Regions from separate parts of the Homo sapiens genome. Here regions 1, 3 and 4 are each linked to region 2. The links come from fine-mapping of genetic effects on gene expression. A gene starts in region 2. Each other region holds a variant in brackets. All regions are shown on one strand. Distances are from middle to middle.

Region 1 (7,265 bases), 120 kb after region 2:
TATTTAGCTCCTACTTATACATGAGAACAGGCAGTATTTGACTTTCTGTTTCTGCATTGTTTCGCTTATGATAATGGCCTCCAATTCCATCCATGTTGCTGCAAAGACATAATTTCATTCTTTTTTATGGCTGAATAGTATTTCATTATATATATATATATATATAAAAATATAACATTTTATTTATTCACTCATCCGTTGATGGACACTTAGGTTGATTCTGTGTCTTTGCTATTATGAATAGTGCTGTGATAAACATAAAAATGCAGTATCTTTTTGGTATAGTGATTTATTTTCCTTTGGTTAGATACTCAGTGAGATTGCTGGATCAAATGATATTTCTTTTCCTTTCTTCTTTTCTCTCTTTTTCTTTTTCTTTTGAGACTGAGTTTCGCTCTTGTTGCCCAGGCTGGAGTGCAGTGGCACAATCTTGGCTCACTTTGCCTCCCGGGTTCAAATGATTCTCCTGCCTCAGCCTCCTGAGTAGCTGGGATTACAGGCGCCCGCCACCACGCCCAGCTAATTATTGTATTTTTAGTAGAGATGGGGTTTCATCATTGTTGGCCAGGCTAGTCTCAAACTCCTGATCTCATGTGATCCACCTGCCTCGGCCTCCCAAAGTGCTGGGATTACAGACGTGAGCCACCATGCTTGGCCAGTTCTTTTTCTTTTGAGACAGAATGCCACTTTATCACTGAGGCTGGAGTGCAATGGCGTGATCTTGGCCCACTGTAGCCTGGACCTCCTGGGCTCAAGCGATCCTCCCGCCTCAGCCTCTGGAGTAGCTGGTACTATGGATGTGTGCCACCTGTAGTCTCATCTAATTTTCTGTATTTTTTGTAGAGATAGGGTTTCACCATGTTGCCCAGGCTGATCTTGAACTCCTGGGCTCAAGCAATCCACCTGCCTCAGCCTTCCCAAATGTTGGGATTATAGGTGTGAGCCACTGCATCTGGCCAAAAGGTAGTTCTGTTTTTAGTTCTTTGAGAAATCTCCATACTCTTTTCCGTAGAGGTTGTCATTTAATCACTTACTTTTTATTGAGTGTCTTCCATGGTCTGGGCCTAGTAAGGGGGATAGACATGAATGAGGCATACTCGGAGCCTCCAGCAGCTTACAGGCCTGCAGAGGGTCATGTGAGCAGATAGTGGGGCAAGAGAGGAGGTGCCAGGTACACTTGGTCTCAAAGGTGCATTAGGGAACCATTGATTGGGTCAGGGTCCCAGATAGGATGGCTTAGGGAAGCGTGCAGGGGGAAAGCATGTCTGGCTGAGAATCAACTTAAGCAAAGGAAACGAAGAGGAAAACAGGAAGCCACCATCTTTGCAGCTGGAAGCAAAGCAGGACAGGAAAGCAAAGAGCCTTGAGTGCCAAGCCAAGGAGCCTGAGTCGTGTGCAGGGATGGCTGTGGAGTCTTTGCTGGTTGTAAGCAAGGAGTATGGGGGCTGTCCTCCGTGGGTGCAGCCAAGAAACACAGTAGACTGTGTGTTCCCGAGGCCTAAGATTCAAGGGGCTCCAGGAGAAGGAAGATATCCCATTGCCTCAAGTATGGCCAAGCTCAAGGGGCCTGGGTGAGGAACTCCATAAAAGAGATCCAGGGTCAATAACCTCTGGAAATAGGCAGAATGTCCTCTGCCCTCTGGGCAATGCTAGAGTGTCCTCCCAACTCCTCTTTCCACTCCTCCCCCTCCCAAAGTACATCAGAAGCCTCATCCCCTTACATCCCCAGGGACCCGTGGTAATTCAAATTCTTGGGAATAGTAGGACCCAGATTCCAAGAACAGGAACGGTTTGGTAATCCATAACCTCACGGTTAGTAGTTCCTTAAAAAGGAAAAGAAAAAAATTTTTGAGTGCCTGGCACCATTCTGGGTGCTTCCACCCTATGATCTCACATCACCAAGACAGCCATCTGTTGAACTGAGGCCCAAGAGACCAGTGACTGGCCCAGGGTTGCACAGCATGTGTGGGTAGAGAGCTGGGGCATGAACCCTGGCTTCTGGGGCTCTAGGAAGGGCTGGGTCTTCTGGGGAGGGAAGGAAGCTAGAGGAAGAACGGAGAGAGACTGAGAAGCTGAGGCAGGGAGCAGGGAGGAAGGGGAGGGAGGAGAAGAGAGGAAGGGAAAGAGAAGCAAAATAGCAAGATCAAAGGAGGGAGCAGAGAGAAGGGAGAAACAGGACAAGAGGTGAGGAGGCAGCACGAACCTCAGGCGAAAAAGAGGAGAGCAGGGCGAAGGCAGATGGAGGAGGAGGAGGACAGAGGAGGGACAACGAGGAGGTTTTGGGGAGACAGGGACAGTGGCTGGCTGGAGGTGATGGGACCCCAGAGGAACACATTCCCAGCTTCTCCCTCCTGCAGCAGAGCAAAAGAGGGGCAGAGAAGGTCCCTGACTTGCAGGAGGTCAGCAGGTGCATCGTGCTGGAATGTGGCTCCATTTCATTCTGGTCAGCAGGAAATTGGTTTGAAACCAAAAATCTTGGACGCTCTAGGGACTGAAAAACAAAAACATCATTTTTAATTATTTTATTTTTTGAATAGATAACATGTGCACATGGTACAAAATTCAAAAGGTACAAAAAAGGTAAACAACTGCCCAGTTCCCCTTCCACAGACTAGCCCACTTGTTACCTGATCTTGTGTTTTGGTCTAGAAATCATCTACACAGCGTGTAGCAGATATATTTTTAAAAATTTTACACAGAGGGGGCCGGGCGTGGTGGCTCACGCCTGTAATCCCAGCATTTTGGGAGGCCAAGGGGGGTGGATCACGAGGTCAGGAGATTGAGACCATCCTGGCTAACACGGTGAAACCCCATCTCTACTAAAAAAAAAATACAAAAAATTAGCCGGGCGTGGTGGCGGGCGCCTGTAGTCCCAGCTACTCGGGAGGCTGAGGCAGGAGAATGGTGTGAACCCGGGAGGCGGAGCTTGCAGTGAGCCGAGATCGTGCCACTGCACTCCAGCCTGGGCGTTAGAGCGAGACTCCGTCTCAAAAAAAAAAAAGGAAAGAAAAAAATTTTTTACACAGAGGGGGGCACATTAAACATATTGTAGTTCCCTTGTTTTTTTTCCCCAATATACATGTCACACCCATGTAGCACTGTCTTGTCCTTCTGAGTTTTTTCCATTTATAGTTTTTGTGGGTACATAGTAGGTGTGTTTATTTATGGGGTACATGAGATATTTTGATACAGGCATAAATTGTGTAATAATCACATCAGTAAATGGGGTATCCACCACCTCAAGCATTTTTCATTTCCTTGTGTTACCAACATTCCAATTATATTCTTTTAGTTATTTTTAAATACACTATAAATTAGTGTTGACTGTAGTGTCTTTTTAATGGCCGTATAGTATTCCACTATTTGGATTTACCAGGATATTTTTAAGTCATGAGAGACATCGTTCATTTAGAAGAGTAAATACAATATTTATGTGCAGTTTAAAGAATAATTATAAAGCAGCCGGGTGCAGTGGCTCATGCCTGTAATGCCATCACTTTGGGAGGCCGAGGCAGGCAGATCACCAAGTCAGGAGATTGAGACCATCCTGGCTAACACGGTGAAACCCCGTCTCTACTAAAAATACAAAAAAAAAAATTAGCCAGGCATGGTGGCAC[G/A]GTCTGTAGTCCCAACTACTCGGGAGGCTAAGGTAGGAGAATGGTGTGAACCCGGGAGGCAGAGCTTGCAGTGAGCCGAGATCGCGCCACTGCACTCCAGCCTGGGCGACAGAGCAAGACTCCGTCTCCAAAAAAAAAAAAAAAAGATAATTATAAAGCTGACATCTATGTAACCACCATCCAGGTAAAGAAATAAAAAAGTTGCCAGAAAGGCCGGGCGCGGTGGCTCACGCCTGTAATCCCAGCACTTTGGGAGGCTGAGGTGGGCAGATCACGAGGTCAGGCGATCGAGACCATCCTGGCTAACACGGTGAAACCCCATCTGTACTAAAAATACAAAAAAAAATTAGCCGGGCGTGGTGGCGGGTGCCTGTAGTCCCAGCTACTTGGGAGGCTGAGGCAGGAGAATGACGTGAACCTGGGAGGAAGAGATTGCAGTGAGCCGAGATCGCGCCACTGCACTCCAGCCTGGGTGACAGGGCAAGACTCCATCTCAAAAAAAAAAACAAAACAAAACAACAAAAAAACATTGCCAGAACCCCAGAAGAATCCCCAAATGTCCCCTACTTCCCTCTAGAAATAACACTGTCCTAACTTTTTCAGTAATTTTCTACTTGCTTTTCTTTTATTTTTTATTTATTTATTTTTTTTCCGACGGAGTCTCACCCTGTCGCCCAGGCTGGAGTGCGATGGCATGATCTTGGCTCACTGCAACCTCTGCCTCCCAGATTGAAGTGATTCTCCTGCCTCACCCTCCCGTGTAGCTGGGATTACAGCCGTGTGCCACCACACCCGGCTAATTGTTTGTATCTTTAGTAGAGACAGGGTTTCACCATGTTGGCCAGGCTGGTCTCAAACTCCTGACCTCATTATTTGCCCGCCTCAGCCTCCCAAAGTTCTGGAATTACAGGCATGAGCCAACGCACAGGCCTCTTGCTTTTTCTCTTGCTTTCCCTTATAGTTCAGTTTTTATTTTAACAGGTTTTAATCTTTATATTAAAAAAATCATAGTGTAAATATCCTTTTGGGTCTTTCTTCTTTTCCCCACCATGTTATTCTGTGTCGCTATGGTCCATTTTCATTGCTGGATAGTATTCCAGTGTTATTTATTTACTTATCTTTTTGAGATGGAGTCTCGCTTTGTCACCCAGGCTGGAGTGCAGTGGCATGATCTCGGCTCACTGCAACCTCCGCTTCCTGGGTTCAAGCAATTATCCTGCCTCAGCCTCTCCAGTAGCTGGGATTACAGACATGGGCAACCACTCCCAGCTAATTTTTGTATTTTTGGTAGAGACAGGGTTTCACCATGTTGGCCAGGCTGGTCTCAAACTCCTGATCTCCAGTGATCCCCCTGCCTTGGCCTCCCAAAGTGCTGGGAATACAGGCGTGAGCCACCGCACCCAGCATTCCATTGTTATTTAACCAGTCTCTCATCAGTATATATGTATTTTTGAGACAGGGTCTCATTCTGCACACACAGCTGGAGTGTAGTGGTTCTATCATGGCTCACTGCAGCCTCGACCTCCTGGGCTCAGGCGATCCTCCCACCTCAGCCCCCCAAGTAGCTTTAACCACTTATTGATGGACATTTGTTTCGAGTCTTTTGCTATTACAAATAATACAGCAATCAATAACATATGCTAAATTACATATATGCAGGAGGGAGGATGTCTAGGAGAGATTCCCAAAAGTTGAATTACCAGGTCAAAGGACAGTGCATTTTTCATTTTTTAATTTTTATGTATGTATTTATGTATTTTATTTTATTTTATTTTATTGAGATGGAGTCTTGCCCTGTCACCCAGGCTGGAGTGCAGTGGAGCAATCTTGGCTCACTGCAGCCTCCACCTTCTGGGTTCAAGCAATTCTCCTGCCTCAGCCTCCTGAGTAGCTGGGATTACGGGTGCACGCCACCATGCCCAGCTAATGTTTTTTGTATTTTTAGTAGAGACAGGAGTTTTGCCATGTTGCCAAGGCTGGGTCTCAAACCCCTGGGCTCAAGCGATCCACCCACCTTGGCCTCCCAAAGTGCTGGGATTACAGGCATGAGCCACCACTCCTGGCCTGTATTTATTTTTTAGAGATAGAGTCTCCCTCTGCTGCCCAGGGTGGTCTCGAACTCCTGCCCTCCAGCCATCCTCCTGCCTTGGCCTCCCAAAGTGCTGAGATTACACGTGTGAGCCACTATGCCCTCTGTGCATTGTTAATTTTGAGACAGATGATGGATAGACAGACAGGGCGGGTGCAGTGGCTCACGCCTGTAATCCCAACACTTTGAGAGGCCAAAGTGGGAGAATCACTTGAACCCAGGAGTTTGAGACCAGCCTGGGCAACATAGGGAGACCCCATCTCTAAAAAAATTTTCAAAATTAGCTTGGTGGGGTGGTGGTGGTGGTGGTGTGTGCCTGTGGTGCCAGCTACTCAGGAGGCTGAAATGGGAGGATTGGTTGAGCCCTGGAGGATGAGGGTGCAGTGAACCATGATCACGCCACTGCACTGCAGCCTGGGTGACAGAACAAGACCCTGTCTTAAAAAAAAAAATAAGACTGGAAACAGATATTATCACATTGCCCTTAACAAAAGTTGTATCAGCCAGGCATGATAGCTCACGCCTGTAATCCCAGCACTCCCAGAGGCGAGTGGATCTCCTGAGGTCAGGAGTTTGAGACCAGCCTGGCCAACATGGTGAAACCCCGTCTCCACTAAAAATACAAAATTTAGCTGGGTGTGGTGGTGCACACCTGTAGTCCCAGCTACTCAGGAGGCTGAGGCAGGAGAATCACTTGAACCTGGGAGGCAGAGGTTGCAGTGAGCCAAGATGGCACCACTACACTCCAACCTGGGTGACAAGAGTGAAACTCCATCTCAAAAATAAATAAATAAATAATAATAAAAATAAAAGTTATACCTATTCATTATCCTACCAGTCCTGCTAGACAGTGCAGCTTCCCAGCCTACTAGACAAGTGGGAGACCCTGCAGGGGCTGGGCCTTGCAGAGTGACAGGGAGGCTGGGCAGGCCTAGGGTAGTGTGGCCCTTTGCCCCTGCTGGCTGGGTTGATGATAGGGGCAGGCCGGGTGCTAATGCAATCACAAAGCAGGCGGGCAACAGGAAACTTGAGGGGGTGTCCTCAAAGCTGAGTCCACAGAGGGGAGCACGACCCCTGACCTCATAGATCTCTCAGCCTTGGCCCAAACGAGCTAGAAAATGAGGAAATGTCCCCCCACCCACTTTCCTAGCAACCTGTCCCCATAGGGTGTGACAAGGCATGTGAGAACACACAGGCCTCAGACCAAGAGCTGGGAAAGTTGACCAAAAAGAGCTGAGCCTGTGGACAGAAATGGCAGTCTTGCAACTTCCTCTCATGGTTGAGACACTGGGAGAGGCTCCCTGGGCCCCAGCCAGGGTCAACTGGGCCCCTCCGAGCTCCCCAAGTTTTGTTGACAGCACTGGGCTGGCTCTTCAGTGCATTAAGGCCTTCAACAATGATTGACTCGGGGCCTCTGCATGCCAGGCAGCCCAAACAGGCAGGGCCCTTCATCCCCGCCCTCATGGGCCTGCTCTTCAGCAGGGCAAGACCCACGATGAACTCATGATAGCGAGTGTTCATTGCATGTTGGAAGGTGACACTCGCCATAGGAACAAGGG
Region 2 (6,942 bases):
AGGTCAGGAGTTCGAGACCAGCCTGGCCCATATGGCAAAACCCCATCTCTACTGAAAATACAAAAATTAGCTGGGCGTGGTGGTGCACACCTGTGGTCCCAGCTACTCAGGAGGCTGAGGCAGGAGAATTGCTTGAACCAGAAGGCTGAGGTTGCAGTGAGCTGAGATCGCGCCACTGCACTCCAGCCTGGGTGACAGAGCAAGACTCCATCTCAAAAAAAGAAAAAAGAAAAAGAAAATGGGGCCTGCCCATTAAATGGACCAACACACAACACTTGATAAACATCAGGGTGAAAGTACAGGAAGTGACTCACCAAGAAGCCTTGAATGGAAAAGTGTAGCAGATGGTTGCTAAAAGAAATCTGACAAAGCCTGGGGAACTCTGTAGGGTGCAGAGACTTTGACAATGTGTATGAGAGACATTCTCTAGGTATCATTACTTTAGCTCATGTTTTGTTGCATTTTAGTCTTCTCAGCAGGAAGACTGTTTCCAAGAAAAATGTATTATTTATTGACCAGGCGCGGTGGCTCATGCCTGTAATCCCAGTACTTTGGGAGGCCGAGGCAGGCAGATCACGAGGTCAAGAGATCGAGACCATCCTGGCCAACATGGTGAAATCCTGTCTCTACTAAAAATACAAAAATTAGCTGGGCGTGGTGACATGCACCAGTAGTCCCAGCTACTCAAGAGGCTGAGGCAGGAGAATTGCTTGAACCTGGGAGGCAGAGCTTGCAGTGAGCCGAGATCATGCAACTGCACTCTAGTCTGGCAACAGAGCAAGACTCTTTGTCTCAAAAAAAATTTTTTTATTTATTTTACAAACACTTATGTGGTAGTTACCATATATGCCACATATTTATGAGATAGGTACTATTATTATTCCCATTTTACAGATGGGAAAACCAAAGCCCAGAGAGGTTAAATAACTTACACAAGGTCACACTGCCTTGTAAGTGGTAGAGGCAGGACTCAACCCGAGGCAGTCTGGCACCAAAATCCACATCCTCACCCATACTGCAATATTCCCTCGAGGATGTGATACATGAAATGTATCTCTAGTGTTCAAATAAGTAAGGCCAATGCCAGTGAAAAACAAGTCTTTTTTTTTTCTTTGAAACAGGGTCTCGCTCTGTCGCCCAGGCTGAATGCAGTGGTGTGATCAATCATGGCTCAATGCAGCCTCGACCTTCTGGGCTCAAGTGATCCTCCTTGAGTAGCTGGGACTACAGGTGTGAACCACCGTGCCCTGCTGAAAAAGGATTTTTTTTTTTTTTGAGCCAGAATCTTGCTCTGTCGCCCAGGCTGGAGTGCAAGTAGAACAATCTCGGCTCACTGCAACCTCCACCTCCCAGGTTCAAGCAATTCGCCTGCTCAGCCTCCCGAGTAGCTGGGACTACAGGTGCGCCACCATGCCCAGTTAATTTTTGTATTTTTAGTAGAGACCGGGTTTCACTGTGTTGCCCAGGCTGGTCTCAAACTCTTGAGCTCAGGCAATCCGTCTGCCTCGGCCTCCTAAAGTGCTGGGATTATAGGGATAAGCCACCGCATCCAGCCTTTTTTCTTTTTCTTTTTTTTTTTTTGAGATGGAGTTTCGCTCTGTCATCCAGGCTGGAGTGCAGTGGCGTGATCTCGGCTTACTGCAACCTCCGCCTCCCAGATTCAAGCAATTCTCCTGCCTCAGCCTCCTAAGTAGCTGGAATTACAGGAGTGCACCACCACGCCCAGCTAATTTTTGTATTTTCAGTGAGACAGGGTTTTGCCATGTCGGCCAGGCTGGTCTCAAACTCCTGAACTCAGGTGATCCCCCTGCCTCGGCCTCCCAAAATACTGGGATTACAGGCATGAACCGCCGTGCCTTGCTGAAAAACGATTCTTGATAAACAAAAATAAGAGTTGCCTCTATTTCTAGAAATGTGGAGCCCTCAAGAATTTTAATGACAGAATTGGCAGGTGATGGTGTCTGGTGCCTGTAATCCCAGCACTTTGGGAGGGCGAGGCGGGTGGATTGCTTGAGTCCAGGAGTTCGAGACCAGCCTGGGCAACATGGTGAAATCCTGTCACAACTGAAAATATAAGAATTAGCTACTTGTGATGGTATGCACCTGTAGTCCCAGCTACTAGGGAGGCTGAAGTAGGAGGATGGCTTGCACCCGGGAGGTCGAGGCTGCAGTGAGCTGTGATTGTGCCACTGCACTCCAGTCTGGGTGATAGAACAAGACCCTGTCTCAAAGAAAAAAAACAAGAATACCAGAATTATTATTTAATTCAGCACCTCTTGTGTGCCAGACACAGCGCTAAGTGCCCTGCATACTTTGTCATTGAACTATACCAACAATTTTCTGAGAAGGGTTCAGATATGATTCCCATTTCACAGATGAGGCTTATAGAGGGGTTAAGACATTTGCTCAAGGTTACACAGCAAAGCCTTGTAGACCTTTTTTTTTTTTTTGACGGAATCTCGCTCTATCGCCCAGGCTGGAGTGCAGTAGTGCAATCTTGGGTCACTGCAACCTCTGCCTCCCGTGTTCAAGCAATTCTCCTGCCTCAGCCTCCCAAGTAGCTGGGATTACAGGCACCTGCCACCACGCCCGGCTAGTTTTTGTGTTTTTAGTACAGACGGGGTTTCGCCATGTTGGCCAGGCTCTTCTCGAACTCCTGACTTCAGGTGATCCGCCCGCCTCAGCCTCCGAAAGTGCTGGGATTACAGGCGTGAGCCACTGTGCCCGGCCTCAGTAAACTTCTTAGTGAGTTCCTAATAGTTCCCTAAGGTGAGGAGAGAAGAAAGTTCCTGCTGCTCCTGCTGCTTGCGTCAGCCTCCCTTCTTCCTCCCCAGGGCTGCAAGTGGAATTCATCAACCCCATCTTCGAGTTCTCCAGGGCCATGAATGAGCTGCAACTCAATGATGCCGAGTTTGCCTTGCTCATTGCTATCAGCATCTTCTCTGCAGGTGTGGAGGAGGGGCAATGGGAAACAGCAAGAGACTTACACCAAGGAGGGCTGCAGGTCCCACAGGAATCGGTGGGGGGAGGGGGGTGGTGGCTTGGGAGGGTGGAGGCATTTGCTGTGTTATTTTAGGATGAGAGAGCTTGGCTGGAGCATGTCTCTATATTTTGGTTGCAATTTGGGGTATGGAACTGGACCCTGGCCAGACCTGCTCCTCAACTCTCTTGGTGACCTATAGACCGGCCCAACGTGCAGGACCAGCTCCAGGTAGAGAGGCTGCAGCACACATATGTGGAAGCCCTGCATGCCTACGTCTCCATCCACCATCCCCATGTGAGTCTCCCCATGGTGTTCCTTTTCCTCCTTCCCACACACAGGCCCATTCCCTGACATACCTACTTTCCCTTCAAGAATTTCTCTCTGACTGCATGCTGTGCAGACAATTCACCTCTCCCACAACTCCCCTACTCTTGCCCCGCTTCCCTGGGGACAGGCAAAAGCTGTGTTTGTCTCTCTCCTTTCCCCAGGACCGACTGATGTTCCCACGGATGCTAATGAAACTGGTGAGCCTCCGGACCCTGAGCAGCGTCCACTCAGAGCAAGTGTTTGCACTGCGTCTGCAGGACAAAAAGCTCCCACCGCTGCTCTCTGAGATCTGGGATGTGCACGAATGACTGTTCTGTCCCCATATTTTCTGTTTTCTTGGCCGGATGGCTGAGGCCTGGTGGCTGCCTCCTAGAAGTGGAACAGACTGAGAAGGGCAAACATTCCTGGGAGCTGGGCAAGGAGATCCTCCCGTGGCATTAAAAGAGAGTCAAAGGGTTGCGAGTTTTGTGGCTACTGAGCAGTGGAGCCCTCGCTAACACTGTGCTGTGTCTGAAGATCATGCTGACCCCACAAACGGATGGGCCTGGGGGCCACTTTGCACAGGGTTCTCCAGAGCCCTGCCCATCCTGCCTCCACCACTTCCTGTTTTTCCCACAGGGCCCCAAGAAAAATTCTCCACTGTCACTCTGTGGTATGGCCATAAATGCCTCAGCGCCGCCTCACTGATAGGTCTGGTACTGTTTGAACAGGAAGATCAAAATGAATACAAAATGAGAGAAACCAATTTCTGGATTGGGGGTGGGGACACGGTAATAGAGGAGGAAGCCTGCGATCTTTAGGATCCGCCTCCAGGCCCAGAGGAGGGAGAGTCACAAATGACAGCCTTGGCCGTGAGAGGGGGCCTCTTCTTACTAACCCCCACTGCGCCATATGGGTAAATGGAATGCTGAGGCTTAGGCGCCCCCTTCCCCTGCTGGGATCCGGGTAGGATCCGGTTGCCTTTCTGCGGTGGAGGAGGAAGTGTTGGATTTCAGCGCTAAGGCGTCGGCGGTGCACCTCACGTGCATGTGTAGCATGCCTTGGTTTTTCCTTTGGCATCTGAAAAAGGCACAACCTGAAAGACCTAGAACCCAGTGTCGGTCCCCAGGCCCTTTGGGACAGGAAGAGAAGAGCCGTGTGGCCGCGGGGAGGATGTCCTGAGGCGGGGCTGTCCTCGCGGACTGACTGGACTCCATCTCCCAGCGGGCGCCGCGGCGCGGCCACGCCCCCCCACTCCCCGCGCGCGCCCGGTGGAGGTAACCGCGGCCGCGCGCCCCCCTCTGCCCCCGCTGCCCAGGATTGGTAGGCTCCACCGCTCGGCAGCCGGCTTCCCTGCTCGGACGCCGAGCACCGCCAAAGCGCGTGAGTGGGGGGTGGGGACTGGGGGATGGGGAGCCCGTCAGGAAGTCTCAGGGGCCGATTATCTTGGGAAGTGACTTTCAGAGGAATCCCCATGTCGTCGAAACGGGCGCTATGACCCCGTCGGGTGAGAGTCTCTCTGAGCAACCCAAACAGAAGGTACTGCTGTGGGTCCCCCACTTGGCACGCGACGGCGCTGGGTCGGCCTGGCGCGCCCTCCCGCGCCCACGGGCGCTAGGCTAGGTCTGTGCGCAGCCGCTGTCTCCCGAGGTCGGCCCCGCCCCGCGGCGCTCGGCTCGGTGCAGCCCCGGCCCCCCGGGCTGAATGGTACGGCCCCGGCCCCGGCCTCCCCCTCCGCACCCCGCGCGAGTGGTGCGTGCCCCCCAGTGCAGACGCGGAACTGGCGCCCGCTCGGAGCGGCGCCGCGCTGGGGAGCGACTGACGCCCCGCTGCCGGGGGACGTCGGGCTGGGCCTGGCCAGTCCCCCAGAGCTTGGGAGGTAGGAGAGTCTGGGCCGGTGGGGTCCTGGGCGAGCGTCTGGGGACTCCGAGCGGGAGACGGGCTCTGAGAGGACACCGTGGCTCTTGGAGGAAGGGGTCTCTCAGGAGGCCCTGGGGGAGTGTGAAGGGGCGTGGGGACGGGGGTCTGCCGAGGAGGGGCGGGGACGGGGATGGGGGCGCCCCGGGCAGAGGAGGGGGCTCAGGCTACTGGGCTTGGTTCCTGCCGAGCGGGCGGCTCGGGTTCAGGTTCGGGGCGGGGGCGGGGGCGGGGGAGAACTGTCCAGCAGGTGAGGGGGCGGGCAGAGCTGGCCAGCCCTGGGGCCGAACCCGCACAGCGCTTGGCGGGTGTGCTTGTGCGTGTGCGTGCTTGCGCCTTATTTTTGGCTAGAATTTGGAGAAACACGTTTGGTTCTCAAGAAATTTTTTTTTTAACTTGATATTTCAAAATTGACTTGCTGGAGAGAGAACACCATTTCATCTTTCTGCAATCGCTCTCCTCCCCATCCTCGTGTATCTACCTTCTTCCACCTTTCCCTGCCCTCCCCTCTACCCCAACCCTGCCAGCTGCCAGCCTCCTTGCTCCAGTTCTCCCATACGCTGGACCAGTCTGTGCTGATGAGCTTGCAAGGTCACTGCCTGGGGAGGTAGAGGAGGGGAGGAGAGCCTCCTGTTGTGTTCACGTCAGCAGAGATGTCATATCGCTCTCTGGTTCCTGTGGTTTTACTGTGAGATCCTGTCCAAAATGAGGGACGAATCCAAAGGGTTGGTTAGCATGGCTATTTCTGCTGAAAAGGCATAGATAACTTAAAAGTTTGTGAATCCTAAATCTACCTCTGGGTGGAGCTGATGGTGATGTCGGACTTCAGCAGATAGATATGCATTTTGAGCTGGATGCTTTTGGAATACAGGAAGATAGGAACCAGAGGCTCTACGTTAGTAAACATGGTTGAGGCAAGAGGCAGAGTCGGAGCCTCGTTGGTTGTGAAGACAAGAGTGTGAGTTGTGGGTGATGTTAGAGGATTTAGTCTTTAGAGGAGTTAAAGGTGTTAGTCTTTTTGGGGAGGGGAGAGAGGAGAGAATGAGAAGGAAAATCTTAGTTATCTTTGCAATCTGAATAACTGAAGGCAGTGGCTGCTGATCAGATGTGAACTCTGGCTAAAAATTTATCCTACCACCCGTAGCTAGAATAATAACAAGATCTCAGGGTCCTTGTGGCTCTGGAAGGAAATGATTGTGAGTGACTTGAGTTTCGTCAGATAGTTGTCAGTGGAGAGGGACTGAGATCCCACCAAGGCTAGAGAGGCCTGATGCGTACTCAGTAGGAGGTGCTTCAGGCCTGATCTTTGAGATTTTGGTTGGAGAGGGCTCCGGGTTTTCAATGTAAACATAGATTGCAAGGTGTAGTCTAGAGCTCTGGTTCTATAAATTCTGTTTTACTTTAAGATACTTTGGCTCTCACTCTAGTCATTTCTACATAATTCTTTTTTTTTTTTCGAATCCCATGACAGGTTAACTACATAATTCTTTATTAAAACAAATTATGCTTTTTACTCATATCCCATTTCATTTCTCTATTTCTCTCCCCCTTGGATTCTGCTCAGGAGGAGCTGAGTGCGGCTCTGTTATAGTGCCCCACCTCCTGCAGTTTGCTCATGACTCTATTGCAGTTGGGAGAACCAAGGGACTATTTGGGTTCGTTAAGCAGTGGTGATACCTAGAAATGAATATATGGCGTGCTCAGAAACCTGGTGGTGTTCTAGAGATATCACTATC
Region 3 (7,219 bases), 61 kb after region 2:
ACACCTCCCACCCTGAGGACAGTCTGAGGGGAGCTTTGCGCCCGTGCCAGCCCTCTGCGCCGGAGGAGGATGCATGGAAGGGTAGAGACCTAATGGGCTGAGTGGGGACCCCTGGGGCACTGTGTCTTACAAGCACTGCCCTGGGCAGAGGGTACGGGCGGGCAGCCCAGGCCAGCAGCAGGGCCTTCGGGTTGGGTTTGACCATTCAAACTAACGCCTTCATTTCTCTCCCATGCTTTCTCCTCCGGCCAGGAGCGGAAGGTACATGCCCTTTCTGCTATCTTCGCTTCTTAGCGCTTTTGAGTTGTGTGCGTGTGGATTCTTCTGTCCTCTCTTTGGGAAATAGACTTTCTTTGTGTGGGTGGGGCTGTAGCTGGGAGAGTGTGCTGTGTGGGGCAGGGGTGGAGCCTGTGGGCCTTACCCCGGCCTCCCTCCCTCTCTTGCAGGTTTTCATAGAGCTGAATCACATTAAAAAGTGCAATACAGTTCGAGGCGTCTTTGTCCTGGAGGAATTTGGTAATTACACTATTTTGCTCTTAGGTCTGGACTCACATGGCAGTAACTCAAACCTCGGAGCTCCAGAGGAGGGTCTAGGGGCAGGGAGAAGAAGAACCTCTGTAGAGAAGTCAGGAGGAGCAGGAGTGACAAGGAAGAAAAGGGACCCCTGAGATGAGAGCCGGGATGTGGAAGGGAAAGATAGATAATGGATCGCAGAAGAGCAAATGGGGCCTCAGGTGGGTTTCGAGTTTAGAGGTGGTCCTGAAGCAGCTCAGTGAAGTAGCACCACCTCCCCGTGCTGGGCCAGCCAGTGGTCAGAAAGTTTGGGACACAGCAGACTGGCGACCCCCAAGCTCCACTATGTCCATGTCACCTGCTGCAATCTCTCTAGCAGCCCAGTGCGCTAGCCAGCCTCCCTGGCGCCGCTCTGGTCTCCACCTGGCCTCTGTGCCAGACAAAGGGGCACCGGGCGTCGCAGGCAGACTCACTTGAGGGACAGAGGAGTCTAGCGGGACAGCTGTAGCCGGAAGCTGGGAGCCAGCGCTAGGGAGTGGTGTAGTGGGTTCTCACCCTGGGGCTTTGAGTTCCTGCTGTGTTTGTGCTTCATTCTTTTGTGCCCCTCATCGCTGCTATGAAAACCTTCGTTCTCCAGCAGGTAAAGTGACCTCGGCTCGTGCTGCCTCTCCCCAGGTCTCTGCCTTGGGCCCTGCCCTGGGTGGGTAGCTCCCATCGAACCAGCTCCTCACACTGCCAGCTCGTCTCTTCCTTTCTCCCCTACCCTCTTTCTTCCTACCTTGCCTCCCCCTTCTCACCGGCTCACTGGACTTTCCTCCCCGTGTGTTCCCTTCTCTCTTCTGTCAGAGAGATACTTGGGGGAATCTTCCAACTCGGGAGAATGGCCTGGGGCTTCTTGCTCTACCTTTGATGAGTTTATTCCCTGCTGACCCTGGGTTCCCCCAAATTCTACCTCCCAGGGTCAGAAGAAGGTACGGCCAATTCTCCTCCTGCCTTTTCTGGCCCCCAGGGAGATGCCAGGCCCCTCTGCTCCCAGTCTCAAGGGGCCATGATGGTGGCTGAGCCTGGGGGGCCTACTCCTTCCTCTGGCCAAGCAGAACCCCTGCATGGCTGGAGCGGGGGGACTCTCACTCTTGCCTTCTGGGCTGTGGACATGTGTGTATTTTGCCTGATGCTCCCTGTCACCTCCCTCCCTGGGTGCTGTACTCGCCTGTCTTCTGCTGGGTGTGTTGCTCCAGAGCCCTCAGACGCTCTCCCTCACACAGGCAGGTCTGGGCTTCTCCTGCCACTCAGGGAAGGACACTGCCACATCCTGTGGGTTTATATCATGTTACCTCTTCATCCAGCCTCAAGACCCTCTGTGTAGGGGGCTGGGAATAACGGGAACTGTGTTTAACATGACCCAATTTTCAGGCTGGTGACGAGTTCACGGGTGTCTCAGCAAAGTTGGACACAAGCTAGAGAGAGCTCTCTCCTCCCAGCCAAAACCTGGGAATTCCCCACTGCAGCTCCTCAGGGGCCCTGGACAGTAGCTGTGACCAGGCTGGTGAAAGGCCCGTCCCTCCCATCCAGGGCTTTCAAAGAAGTGGGTAGAATCACGGCCATCAAGTAAACGCCACTGCGGATGACAGAGGCCTAGCTGAGGAGGCTAGGGCCATGTCCTCCCAGCTGGCAGAGTCTGGACAGAGCCTCTGGTGGCCTCTGCCCTGTCATAGCCTAAGCTGCTGCAGCCACTGTGAGAGGCCACAGAGGGGAAGGGGACCCTGACGCCGGGCGCTGCCGCCTGGGGGAGCATGGCACGATTGCTCTTAGTGTTGAACTTTCTGTTTTGTCTCTTGCCCGTCCGGTTTTAGTTCCTGAAATTAAAGAAGTGGTGAGCCACAAGTACAAGACACCAATGGTGAGTGTGCCGCTCAACCCTGATGGGCCACGGTGCGCAGGGCTCCCTGGGGGACCTTCGGACAGGAGGAGGGGAGGGCCCTCTGAGCGCACAGGGGTGAGTGGGGACCTCGTTTTGTTGCCAAAGGTTCAACTCAGGCTGAAACAGGTCTTGAGCCCTGAGAGACAGACACACACACACGGATCCCCTCTCCCATGGGGACAGCTTCCTTGCTTGGAGCTCACGTTTAGCCCAGAGGCCCATGCCCAGTGTTAGGGCAGGAGTTGCCCATTGGCAGATCCTTCACATATGGAGATGGAGGAGTCTCAGTATCGTGATCCGCCTGGTTTTCTCTCCTCTAGGCCCACGAAATCTGCTACTCCGTATTATGTCTCTTCTCGTACGTGGCTGCAGTTCATAGCAGTGAGGAAGATCTCAGAACCCCGCCCCGGCCTGTCTCTAGCTGATGGAGAGGGGCTACGCAGCTGCCCCAGCCCAGGGCACGCCCCTGGCCCCTTGCTGTTCCCAAGTGCACGATGCTGCTGTGACTGAGGAGTGGATGATGCTCGTGTGTCCTCTGCAAGCCCCCTGCTGTGGCTTGGTTGGTTACCGGTTATGTGTCCCTCTGAGTGTGTCTTGAGCGTGTCCACCTTCTCCCTCTCCACTCCCAGAAGACCAAACTGCCTTCCCCTCAGGGCTCAAGAATGTGTACAGTCTGTGGGGCCGGTGTGAACCCACTATTTTGTGTCCTTGAGACATTTGTGTTGTGGTTCCTTGTCCTTGTCCCTGGCGTTATAACTGTCCACTGCAAGAGTCTGGCTCTCCCTTCTCTGTGACCCGGCATGACTGGGCGCCTGGAGCAGTTTCACTCTGTGAGGAGTGAGGGAACCCTGGGGCTCACCCTCTCAGAGGAAGGGCACAGAGAGGAAGGGAAGAATTGGGGGGCAGCCGGAGTGAGTGGCAGCCTCCCTGCTTCCTTCTGCATTCCCAAGCCGGCAGCTACTGCCCAGGGCCCGCAGTGTTGGCTGCTGCCTGCCACAGCCTCTGTGACTGCAGTGGAGCGGCGAATTCCCTGTGGCCTGCCATGCCTTCGGCATCAGAGGATGGAGTGGTCGAGGCTAGTGGAGTCCCAGGGACCGCTGGCTGCTCTGCCTGAGCATCAGGGAGGGGGCAGGAAAGACCAAGCTGGGTTTGCACATCTGTCTGCAGGCTGTCTCTCCAGGCACGGGGTGTCAGGAGGGAGAGACAGCCTGGGTATGGGCAAGAAATGACTGTAAATATTTCAGCCCCACATTATTTATAGAAAATGTACAGTTGTGTGAATGTGAAATAAATGTCCTCAACTCCCTTCAGGCTCCCTGGCTGCCTTGTGTTAAATGACACCTCCTCTTGGCTCAGGCCTGAGGAAAGCTATCCCTGGACTCTAAAAAGTCACCTCAGGCTGGAAGGAAGGAAGGAGATGAGGTCATCCATGTCCAAGCTTTGGCACACGGAGGCCCCAGCTCCCCTGTTCTGGGCTCCTAGAGCAAGGCTGCGGGAGGAGCTTTCCTTCCTGGGCACCTGAGGGCCCTGCAGAGAGCTGGGCTGCCATGAATGAACAGGCTGCTAGAGGGAGCAGCCAGACTGGGCGTCCTCACCTGAACTGAGATTAAGTGAAAGAAAGCCAAGGCCCTGGCCCTCTCCGTTCCCTTACAGGTGGGTATGGTCGAGAGAGGTGTGGTGATTCAGCCAGGGCCTCCCACAGGGCCCCGGACTCCTGGCCAGGAGTGTCTTCCACTGCATAGAACTCCCAGAAGCTCCCCTAGGAGCTGCCTTCATGGAATTCTGTCCTGGAAAAACCTGGCTGCACTCTCAGGGAATTTGAGACCTGCTGGCTTCCCGCGCCCAAAAGGAAACAGATGCTCGGATTTAGGCTCCCCATGGGGGAAGTGAGAGCAGAGTGGGGCCCTGGCCCTGACACCTTTCTGGTGCCCAGCGTCCTGGACTGGATTGGGTTGCTGTCTCCCACCGGGGATATGGGTCTGAACCCGCTGCTGGCTTATTGCTGGCTGGGACTCCAAAGCCACCTAGTGCAGCTCCACCCCAGCACAATCACAACACTGAGATTCTGCCTCACCCCACCTCCAGGCGGTTGTGACCACGGCCCCTGGCACAAGGATCACGCTGAGCACCTGGGACCAGTTAAATGCACTTTCCGCTGTCACAGCTCAGTTTCATCATCTGAAGAGTGAATGCTGTAGGGGAAGACAGGTTCCTTCTAGCGTTAATGTTTTATGAACTCAGAAACCACTCTGGGCCTGGTTTAATCATCGGGAAAACAAAACAAAAAACAGTATCTGCTCTCACTTTGCTGTGAAGATCAATGTCCCTGGGCTTTTTTCTTTTTTTTTTTTTGAGACATGGTCTCACTCCATCACCCAGGCTGAAGTGCAGTGGCATGATCTCGGCCCACCTCAAACTCTACCTCCTGGGTTCAGGTGATTCTCCTGCCTCAGCCTTCCAAATAGCTGGGATTATAGGCGCGCCACCTTGCCCAGCTAATTTTTGTATTTTTAGTAGAGACGGGGTTTCACCATGTTGGCCAGGCTGGTCTTGATCTCCTGACCTCAGGTGATCGGCCCGCCTCC[G/A]CCTCCCAAAGTGCTGGGATAACAGGCATGAGCCACCGCACCTGGCCATCCCCTGTGCATTTTTATGAAAACAGGCACACCGAAATTGAGAAGAGTGAGTTCTCTGTGACTGCACTTATCTTTTATTGCCCAATAAACATTGGGAAGACATAGCAGGCCAGAAAGGCCTGTCCCCAGACATTGTTTCTTGAGGCCACCCTCCTTTTACCCCAAAGATCCAGGGGCTTCCTTCAGGAGCCCTGTGGACCAGTCTGTGCAACACCCACTCAGGACTGCCCGACAACTGCCCTGCTGATCCCCCATCGCAGCACAGGAGACACACTTGTCACACATACATCCAACAGTAGGGAGGGGTTTCCCCAACTTCCCTCCAGGCTCCTGGCACGGGGCTGGCATCCGGTTGTACCTGCAACACAGGTTATCTTACGAGTGAATGGAGGGCCCCTACAGCCTCCCATTTACTGATGGCTGCCCCAGGACCAAGGGCCAGGGCTCAGCCACTGACTTGTGCCCTGGGTGTCGGGTGGTACATACCTGGCCATCCCCAGGAGCCAGCCTGGTCACTGAGGCACTGCAGAAGAGGAGGCCATGTCACTGTGTCCTCCCAGCCTTCTGGAAGCTATTGCCCATCTGGGCGTGGCAGGGTCCGTGCCCTTGCAGCCAGGGCAGGTGCTTGGCCGAGGACAACGGAGCAAAGCCCAGGGTCCCCACTGCCGCCCGCTCTTCCCATCTCCCAGGCCCTGGCCCCGAGGGCTCCTCACCTCGCACCTCCAGGCGGCACTCACACCGTGCCTCGCCCTGTAAGTTGGTGGCCCTGCAGACATAGATGCCCCCGTCAAAGGGGCAGGGCTTTCTAATCTCCAGAGTCAACACTCCCTGCTTGCTGAACATGCGGAAGCGGGCGTCTTCTCCCAGGTCCAGGCCATTCTTGAACCAGGAAATCTTGGGCTATAAATAAGGTAAAGAGAGGGAGGGAAGCCATCCAGGCTGAGAGGGGACCTGGCAGGGACCCAGGGAGACACATCTGTGTTTCTACTCGGGGGGTCCCACGAGAGTCCCTGACTATGCCCAAGGCTGGAAACAAACATGGAACCAAGAGTGAGTACCATGGCCCTGCCCAGGGGGAGGAACCCGGTCCATACACCCCAAGGTGGAGAGAAAGCAGGGGAGACAGGCTGGGGAGAGGACTGCTCAACGTCGGGGCCTGTGAGCCCTGCCTCCTGGTCGGCCTGGACCAGCGCCTAAAGTTCCCTACCTTGGGGCTACCCCGGACAGCACAGCAGAGCATAGCAGTGTAGCCCGCGATGACCGAGCGGTTCACCAGGGGCTGGGTGAAGCTTGGGGCCTCGGAGAAGTCCAGGGCCTTATAGTTGGGTGGCTCATAGGTGATGCCTGTTGGTGACAGGACTTGGTACCGAGAGGGCCACACAAAGCTAGGCCCCTCTCCCTGTTCCCACAGCCTCCCTGCCCCAGCCCCTGGTTGGAAGAATGAGGGTACAGCACCTGGTCTGGGGATAAAGACGGGCTCCTTGGTGGTGGCCGCTCTGTCACTAAAGCCAACCATATTCTGGCTGAAGACGCGGAAGTAGTAGCCATTGCCAATGATGAGCTCTGGCACCACGCAGTGGGTGCGGCGGTAATGCTCCAAGACGGTGAACCACTCCTGGGGGCAGGGAGGGAGGGGAGGCATCTCTGGGCCAGGCCCTTCCTGATGCCGAGAGCCTCTCCTGGGTGCCCTTGGCATCTCCACCCCTACTATGGAGGGATTCAGATCAGCAGAGGGAGGGTGAGGGGTCCACGGTGAGGACAGTGAAGGGTAGCTGCGGCCTGGGTCTGCCGGGCCTAGGCAGGGTGCACGTGGGGACCCCAGACCCTGGGCTCACCATGGTCTTCTTGTCGGCTTTCTGCACTGTGTACCCCCAGAGCTCCGTGTTGCCGACATCCTGGGGTGGCTTCCACTCCAGAGCCACATTAAGACCCCAGGCGTCAGTCACCCGGAGATCCTGGGGAGGACTTGGCTTGTCTGCGGGAGACAGACCCAGTTGGGTCACCACGCCTCCTGACAGTGAGCAGGGGGTCACTGGCTCCAGGGACCACCCCACCCCTGCCAACCAGGGCCAGGCCTGCTGGGGCAGTGGACTGGAAAATGTGAGCTGTGGGTTGGGTCCCCTGGCCCCACCCTTGGCCCCAGCAGCCCAGC
Region 4 (7,265 bases), 310 kb before region 2:
AGATAATATTTCAACTTTTAAGTAGTACAGCTGCCTAAATACTGTCTTAAGTAGAAACTGTTTTCTTTTTTCCTTTTTTCTTTTTTTGAGGTGGAGTCTCACTTTGTTGCCCAGGCTGGAGTGCAATGGCCCGATCTCGGCTCACTGCAACCTCCACCTCCCGGGTTCAAGCAATTCTCCTGCCTCAGCCTCCCGAGTAGCTGGGATTATAGGCGCCTGCTATCACGCCTGGCTAATTTTTGTATTTTTAGTAGAGACAGGGTTTCACCATATTGGCCAGGCTGGTCTGTTGGTCAGGGTGGTCTTGAACTCCTGACCTCATGAGCCACCCGCCTCAGCCTCCCAAAATGCTGGGATTACAGCCATGAGCCACCAGGCCTGGCCTGGAAACTGTTTTCAAATAGGTGTTCTTCATATGCCATCTAGAGTAATTCTCATATGCAGGAGGACTGAAGGAGACAGCAGTCTCGTTCAGTCCTCACAGCAGGTAGACACCAGCTGATCCCACTTTTCTTTGAGGAAACTGGGATTTAAGTTATATAACTTGTCCAAGGTCACTGAGCTAGTATGTCTGGAGCTGAAGTTTGAATGAAGTTTATCTGACTCTAAAGCCAGTAGTATTGTTAGCCACTTTCTTTCAGGTTTTGTAATTTCTAAGAGCCTTCTTTCCCATTCAGTTCAATAAAAATTTAAGTGTCAGAACTTAAATTCAGTAGAAAATTCTACAGAATATATGATATATTCCTTAGACTCTTTTTTTTTTTTTTTTTTTGAGACAAGGTCTCACTCTGTCATCCAGGCTGAAGTGCAGTGGCATGATCATGGCTCAGTGTAGCCTCGACCTCCTGAGCTCAGGTGATCCTCCCACCTCAGCCTCCCAGGTAGCTGGGACTATAGGAGTGTGCTACCATGCCTAGCTAATTTTTAAATTCTTTGTTTGTTATGTTGCCCAGGCTGGTCTCGAACTCCTGGGCTCAGGTGATCCACCCGCCTTGGCCTCCCACAGTGCTGAGATTACAGACGTGAGCCACCATACCCTGCCAGATTGTTTTAATATATAGAAGATAATTTAACATTTTCTTGGTGAGGTAGTGTCATTATTTTAGACCTAATTTATTATATTGTGCTATAAATGTGTTATAACAGTTACCCATGAAGATGGATGTTATTTTTTTTATGCATGAGAAGAAATGGTGGCTCAAATAACTTAAGTAAATTTTCCATTTATATAGATAGCAGTTAGTGAAGCTGTTATTTGATTCTAATTCTTCTAATTTGAAATTAAGTGGTTTAGGTGCCACTCAGTGTTAAATTCTAATTTATAGCTATTAATTAATAAGAAGACATCTCCCTGCTCCCACACCAGTACTTACCATTCCCTTCTCTCCAGACTAATGTTTCCTACTGAGTCAGTAAGCTGTTGAGGTCTACTGAGGTTTGTTTGGCGCTTCAGGTGGTTTGGTGCTCCTAATCTCTCAGGGTATTAGGGTGAGGGCTGAGCTGGTGTTATAAAAACAAAACAAAACAAAAAACCTCCACCACTTAACTCCCCCTCCCTCCCAGTGCAATGGCTCATACAAGAAGCACTTTCTTTCTTTCTTACTTAATCCAAATCCAGGATGTGAAAGGCAGGGTCTGCTTTAGGAAGTCATCATTGGATTTCAGCTAGCAGAGCAGTCATTCTGTCTGAAACACATGGTTTCCAAAGCTGCCTCAATTGTAGCCATTTTCAGCCAGTAAAAGGGGAAACAGTGAATCCAGGGCAAGGACCTTTTAGGCAAGTGAAGCCGAAGATGCAAACATCACTTGTGCTCACATTTCATAGGTGAGAACTTAATAAGGTCCCTGCTAACTGCCAACGAGGCAGGGAATTTTAGTCTAATGGACAGTCGTGTGCAAGAAGAATGGCAGTGTATTTTTGGTGGTACACAAACAAAAATCTGTCATACCTAGTATATGCGGTGGAGACATCTACCCTACTCAAGGCAAGTTGTATTGTTGGTAGCTGCTTGCCCTTATTCACAGGTGAAGCATAGATGTGCTGGTCAGTATTTGGTTTTTGTCCTCTACCTCTTGAAGTACAAAGTTATTTTATCCTTGGTCCCTGTCTCTGAGTTCAGTTGCTCCCTTTTTACAATGGTTATTATTTTCTTTCTTAACTTTATGTTGCCTGTCATTTCTCTGTGTCACTTCCTGTCCTTTGTAAACATTTCCAATAATCAGAATAGTTCCTCTCTATACTCTAGTGAGTCGTTCACCTTAGTGAGAACATGTAATTTTAGAATTTTTAGTTCTTTATAATTGGTTTGTTGCTGGGCGTTGGAGGTAACTTTGCTGCTAAATAATTTTATTTTTCTATTGAGAGTTAGAGACCCATTGTAGAAACCAAAATCTTGTTTCCAGAGAGCTAGTTTTACAATAAAGAAAGATATTTATCTTCCTAGACTGGAGAGTGATTTGTAAGAGATTTAGGAGGAGAGTGAGAAAAAGGCAGTGCCACAGACACTGGGGACGTGGGGGTGGAGAGTTTCAAGATGGAGGAAGTGTTCAATGATACCAGATGCCTCAGAGAGGTCAAAGAAGATACGGGCTGCAAGGCAGGTTGTTAGTGGCATTAAGGGAGGTTTTCATGGAGTAGTGTGGCAAGATGCCTGATTTTGCTGGATTGAAGAGTAAATCGGAGGGTGAAGGCGTTGAGAATAGGCTAGATTCGTTTCAAGAAGTTTGACCAATTAGGGAAAGGAGGAGAGGGGGTGATAGCAAGAGGAGGAAGAGAGAGTTTATTGTTTTTAGTTTTTAGATGGGAGAAACTTGAGTATGTTTTTAGGCTGAAGGGAAAGGAACCATTGTACAGGGAGAGAGGGAAGATCCAAGGGAAGGAAAGGATGATGAATACTTGATGGAACATTTTTAGAAGTACGAGGAAATTTAGGATCAAAGGCAGAGGTGCAAGGCTATTTTGAAGTTGGGAGTCAGGACCATATTTATCCAGAAGGCACTGTTTGTGTGGTGCCTAACCAACAAACTGTTATGGGATCTTTGAAAATATTTGAGACCTAAAAAAAAATTTATCAACCCTAAAGTATGGATATATGTTTTATTATATATGTATAAAACAATATAATGTCAACTTTCATTATTACATGTAATATTGACAGACATTTTGCCATATTTGAAAGCAATTCATAAGTAAGAATTTTCTCAATTAGGAAGAATTCCCAAGTGAGAAATCAGGTCTTAAGGTGATCTTAAAACCGCTTCACATGGCGTAATTAAATTTGAACAACAGAGGTGGGAAGTAAGGGTGATGAAGGACATGGTTAAACTTAGAAATGGAGCTAGAAATTGGTGTTCTTTACCTGATGACCTCTTCTTTGTCTGAAGTAAGAATCAAGATTATCTTCTTAGAGTTAGGGAAGCAGAAGTAAAAGGCTTGAGGAGAGCAAAGAAAGTTTGTATTAGCTACTGGGGGAAAGAAGAAAGATAGCTCGACTAGGGCCAAGTACAAGTATTCTGAGCTACATTAAAGCATGTGAAGTAAGGCTGCATAAATCATTTTAAAAAAAGAAGTAACTAAGAATGCTAACAGGAGCAAAGTTGACTATGGGAATTGGTAAAAGAAAAAATACAAAAGCATTACAAAATAATAATTAGAAGAAACAGTTGAAAAACTCTTTTAGGAAAACATGATGTCACAAATAATGCATAAGAAGAGGGAGGATTCGGCTGGATGCAGTAGCTTATGCCTATAATCCTAGCACGTTGGGAGGCTGAGGCTGGTGGATCACTTGAGGTCAGGAGTTCGAGACCAGCCTGGCCAATGTGGTGAAACCCCATTTCTACTAAAAATACAAAATTTGGTTGGGTATGGTGGCAGGTGCCTATAATTCCGGCTACCCTGGAGGCTGAGGCAGGAGAATCGCTTGAACCCTGGAGGCAGAGGTGGCAGTGAGCCGAGATCGTACCACTGCACTTCAGCCTGGGCGACACAGTGAGACTCTGTTTTGAAAAAATAAATAAATAAATAAAAAATAAAATAAAAAAGAAGAGGGAGAATCCAGAGAGCGCAAAATTCCACTTCTTCCATTGAAGAAAGTTCAAAGAATTGCTGGATTTAAAGTTTTTGATGTTTATGTTTCTTAACTACAGAATTT[T/A]AAAAATCAAATGGGTCTATAAGAGTTATAACAAAAAAAAGCAGTACCCTACACCATAACCTTCTCACCCCGAAGTCTCACTCCTCAGAGGAGGCCATTTTCTTTCTTTTTTTTTTTTTTGAGTACCAGTAAGTCTTTATTTATTCATTGTATTTTCCCAGGGAAAGGAGAAGGGAAGGGAAGAGTCAGCATGTGTTAAAAAATGATGAGAAAATGGGAAAGGAAGTACCCAGTACAGCAAAATCAACCGTCAAATAAACACACCCCAGTGATGGGGTCACCAAAGCCCAAAGGGGCTCAGTCTCCTGCAGTTCAGGAATGAGGGAAAAGGATCAGGAAAAAAACAGACAGGTACAGGCTTTCCTACCCTCCCTCCCCATAAATTCAAGATTTTACACAAAGCTTTGGTTTCTAGCAGTAAACATGGAGTTACATTCATTCATCTCCTATTAAACAATCTTGTGGCCACTTTGACATAAGTTTCTACCACCTGCATAAAAGTTCCTGAGTGACTTGGATATACATTCATATTCCCTTTCTTGGCCTCCTGACCCCACTTTCTACATGGAAGGCCCCCAATTGCATCTCTTTACTTTAGGATTAGAAATTAAAAGTAAGTAGGTTTGATCCATCCAAAATACAGTAGTGTGGTTTTTTTTTTGTTGTTTTTTTGTTTTTTTTTTTTCGAGACAGGGTCTTGCTCTGTAACCAGGCTGGAGTGCAGTGGTGCGATCTCAGCTCACTGCAACCTCCGCCTTCCAGGTTAAAGCGATTCCCCCGCCTCAGCCTCCTGAATAGCCGGGACCACAGGTATGCGCCACCACACCTGGCTAATTTTTTTGTATTTCAGCAGAGACGGGGTTTCACCGTGTTGGCCAGGATGGTTTTGAACTCCTGACCTTGTGATTCGCCCGCCTCAGCCTTCCAAAGTGCTGGGACTACAGGTGTGAGCCACTGCGCCCAGGCTACAGCAGTGTCTTAAGTGTTTGGCATGAATACATGAAGAAATGGTCGGCCTAGCGTGGTGGCTCATGCCTGCAATCCTAGTACCCTGGGAAGCCAAGGTGGGCAGATCACCTGAGGTCAGGAGTTCCAGACCAGCCTGGACAACACGGTGAAACCCCGTCTCTACTAAAAATAAAAAAATTAGCTGGGCGCGGCGGGTGCCTGAAATCCCAGCTACTCAGGAGGCTGAGGCAGGAGAATCGCCCGAACCCAAGAGGCAGAGGCTGCAGTGAGCCGATCATGCCACTGCACTCCAGCCTGGGCGACAGAGCGAGACTCCATCCACCCCCCCCCCCCCACCAAAAAAAGAAAGAAATGGTAATGGTCTTGACTTAGGAGGTTGGGAACAAGGGATGGAGGGTTTTCCTAGCTTCAGGATTTTTGCATACATCATTTAAGAGTTGTGGAGACACTCCAAGCATTAAATGTGTATGTGTGTGGGTGTGTAAGTTTTCTTTTGGGGGTGAACAGAAAAGAGGGCAGGGTAGAAGACAAGTTTTTAGGACAGAAGATCTGGTCTAATAGGTAATAGGGGAAGGGGAATACAAAAGAAAGGATGGTTCAAGATCCCCACTTTAAGAAGCGGGCCCCCCAAACTAATGTTTCAGATCTTTTTGCCTGGTGCAGAAACTTCTGTCAAAGATGCTTTGGCTATTTTTCTCTCAATACAAAAAGAACTTTGTAAACAAAACCCCCAAAGAACACGGAGGAAGACCAATACATTATATTTACACAAACTAGGCCACCTAGCAATCAACTTAGTGAAGTCCTACAAAGCCCAGACAAATACAGTAACTTGGGGGGCAGCATTTAGGGGAGACAAGAACCCAGGATCAGACACACACCACCCAATGCGTTCTATTGTATTTGTCCCGTTTCAACACAGTGAGGTAGGTTTGCGGTGATCTCACAGCATGTAAACGAAACCCCCTTTTTCGAGGAGGCCATTTTCAAATTTTTCAGCATTAAAAACAATTTTTTTTTGCTGTGTACTTTAAAATAACATGCTTAAATTGCTCTTCTTGATTTTTCAGTTTTAGATATTATTTAATGACTTTATATTATAGAAGATGAGGATTTAGGTCTCTTATACTACTCAATTTCCCTTCTTCCTAGTCTTCCAACAAAATTATTATAATTTTTGGTTAAATCAATATTCAGTGTTTATTATGACTGTGAAAATTATACATATGTATGCACGTATACATAGTATATATGTATATATATATACACACAGTATACAACATATATATGTAAAATATATATAATATAGTATACTATGATTACATTTCTCCTTTTTGAACATTTTTTTTCATTTTCCTGCAATTAATAATTGCCTTTCCTTTTGTGCATGGTTTTCGATGAACTTGTGCCCCAGACTTTATAGCCTAAGGTCAGTTCAAACACATCAGGCATCCTCTCAGTTTCAATTTCTTTTCTTCAAGGTAACTTTTCTGAAGTACTTCTTCATCTAACTGGTCCCCCTGCTTCAGTCTGGCCTGGTTGCTCTCTAAATCCTTCATCTTTATCATGGGTATTACTTCATTCTTCATCCTTACATGGATATTACTTGTCTTGCTTAAGTAAGTTTTAGTGCATATTTCCTAAAGCCTATGTCTTCCTTTTTCCTTACATGTTCCTTCTTTTTATTAGATTGCATCCTCTAGTAGCTTTCTGAGAAAGGGTGCATGCAAAGTAATATTTTAGGGAATCTTCTGTTTATGAAAATGACTTTATACTACCCTTACCCTTGATTGATAGTTTAGATACATATAAAATTCTGTGTTGGAGATAATTTTCCCTTAGAATTTTTAAAGCATTTCTCCCCTATCTTTTAGCTTTCTGTATTGCTATTGAGTGATCTAATGCCATTCTGATTTGTGATATTTCATGTAGTTTTACATTGGTGTGGATCTTCTTTCATTGTCTTGAGATCCTTTCAGTGTAGAAATTCATGTATATCAGTTCTGAGAAGTTTTCTTGAATTATGTGTTTAATATTGTCTCATCTCTGTTCTATCTCTGGAACTGTTGTTACTTAGACATTGGACTTATGGATTTATGCTCTAATTTTTCTTGTTTTCTCTTTTCTGTCTTTTTTGATTTT

Direction of the effects. Alleles are on the strand shown, and positions count from the first base shown. SD is a standard deviation of normalised expression in the study named. Not every link is listed here.
In carriers of allele A in region 1, the expression in monocytes after interferon gamma of the gene that starts at base 5,055 in region 2 tends to be lower than with G alone (large effect, 0.83 SD a copy in Fairfax 2014).

What was found. PIP is the estimated chance that this variant, and not a neighbour inherited with it, causes the effect.
Region 1: its variant is the best candidate, but not a certain one, in a credible set for the expression of MADD in monocytes after interferon gamma (Fairfax 2014, PIP 0.54).
Region 3: its variant is the best candidate, but not a certain one, in a credible set for the expression of MADD in whole blood (INTERVAL, PIP 0.72).
Region 4: its variant is the best candidate, but not a certain one, in a credible set for the expression of MADD in whole blood (TOPMed, PIP 0.52).

The regions. Positions count from the first base shown.
Region 1 is chr11:47,381,342-47,388,606 of GRCh38, forward strand. It overlaps SLC39A13-AS1 (SLC39A13 antisense RNA 1), which reads right to left. Exons shown (of 4, transcript NR_182308.1): 4 at 274-2,491. Among named protein-coding and RNA genes, the nearest start is that of SPI1, 6.4 kb to the left of the region's middle. The variant G/A (reference allele first, on the strand shown) is at 3,618.
Region 2 is chr11:47,265,079-47,272,020 of GRCh38, forward strand. It overlaps MADD (MAP kinase activating death domain), which reads left to right and starts at 5,055. Exons shown (of 37, transcript NM_001376571.1): 1 at 5,055-5,168. It overlaps NR1H3 (nuclear receptor subfamily 1 group H member 3), which reads left to right. Exons shown (of 10, transcript NM_005693.4): 8 at 2,835-2,948; 9 at 3,183-3,277; 10 at 3,472-3,955. The coding sequence ends at 3,618. It overlaps MADD-AS1 (MADD antisense RNA 1), which reads right to left. Exons shown (of 3, transcript NR_120569.1): 2 at 6,001-6,063; 3 at 5,579-5,902. RefSeq lists enhancers at 160-454, 4,237-4,346, 4,820-5,114 and silencers at 4,497-4,606, 4,817-5,346.
Region 3 is chr11:47,326,292-47,333,510 of GRCh38, forward strand. It overlaps MADD (MAP kinase activating death domain), which reads left to right. Exons shown (of 37, transcript NM_001376571.1): 34 at 253-261; 35 at 447-516; 36 at 2,367-2,413; 37 at 2,755-3,740. The coding sequence ends at 2,859. MYBPC3 (myosin binding protein C3) reads right to left here. Exons shown (of 35, transcript NM_000256.3): 30 at 6,903-7,042; 31 at 6,523-6,682; 32 at 6,275-6,411; 33 at 5,781-5,967; 34 at 5,554-5,590; 35 at 5,115-5,425. The coding sequence ends at 5,580. Among named protein-coding and RNA genes, the nearest start is that of MYBPC3, 23 kb to the right of the region's middle. The variant G/A (reference allele first, on the strand shown) is at 5,020.
Region 4 is chr11:46,950,543-46,957,807 of GRCh38, forward strand. The region is part of intron 1 of CSTPP1 (centriolar satellite-associated tubulin polyglutamylase complex regulator 1); the gene reads left to right. Among named protein-coding and RNA genes, the nearest start is that of CSTPP1, 17 kb to the left of the region's middle. The variant T/A (reference allele first, on the strand shown) is at 4,155.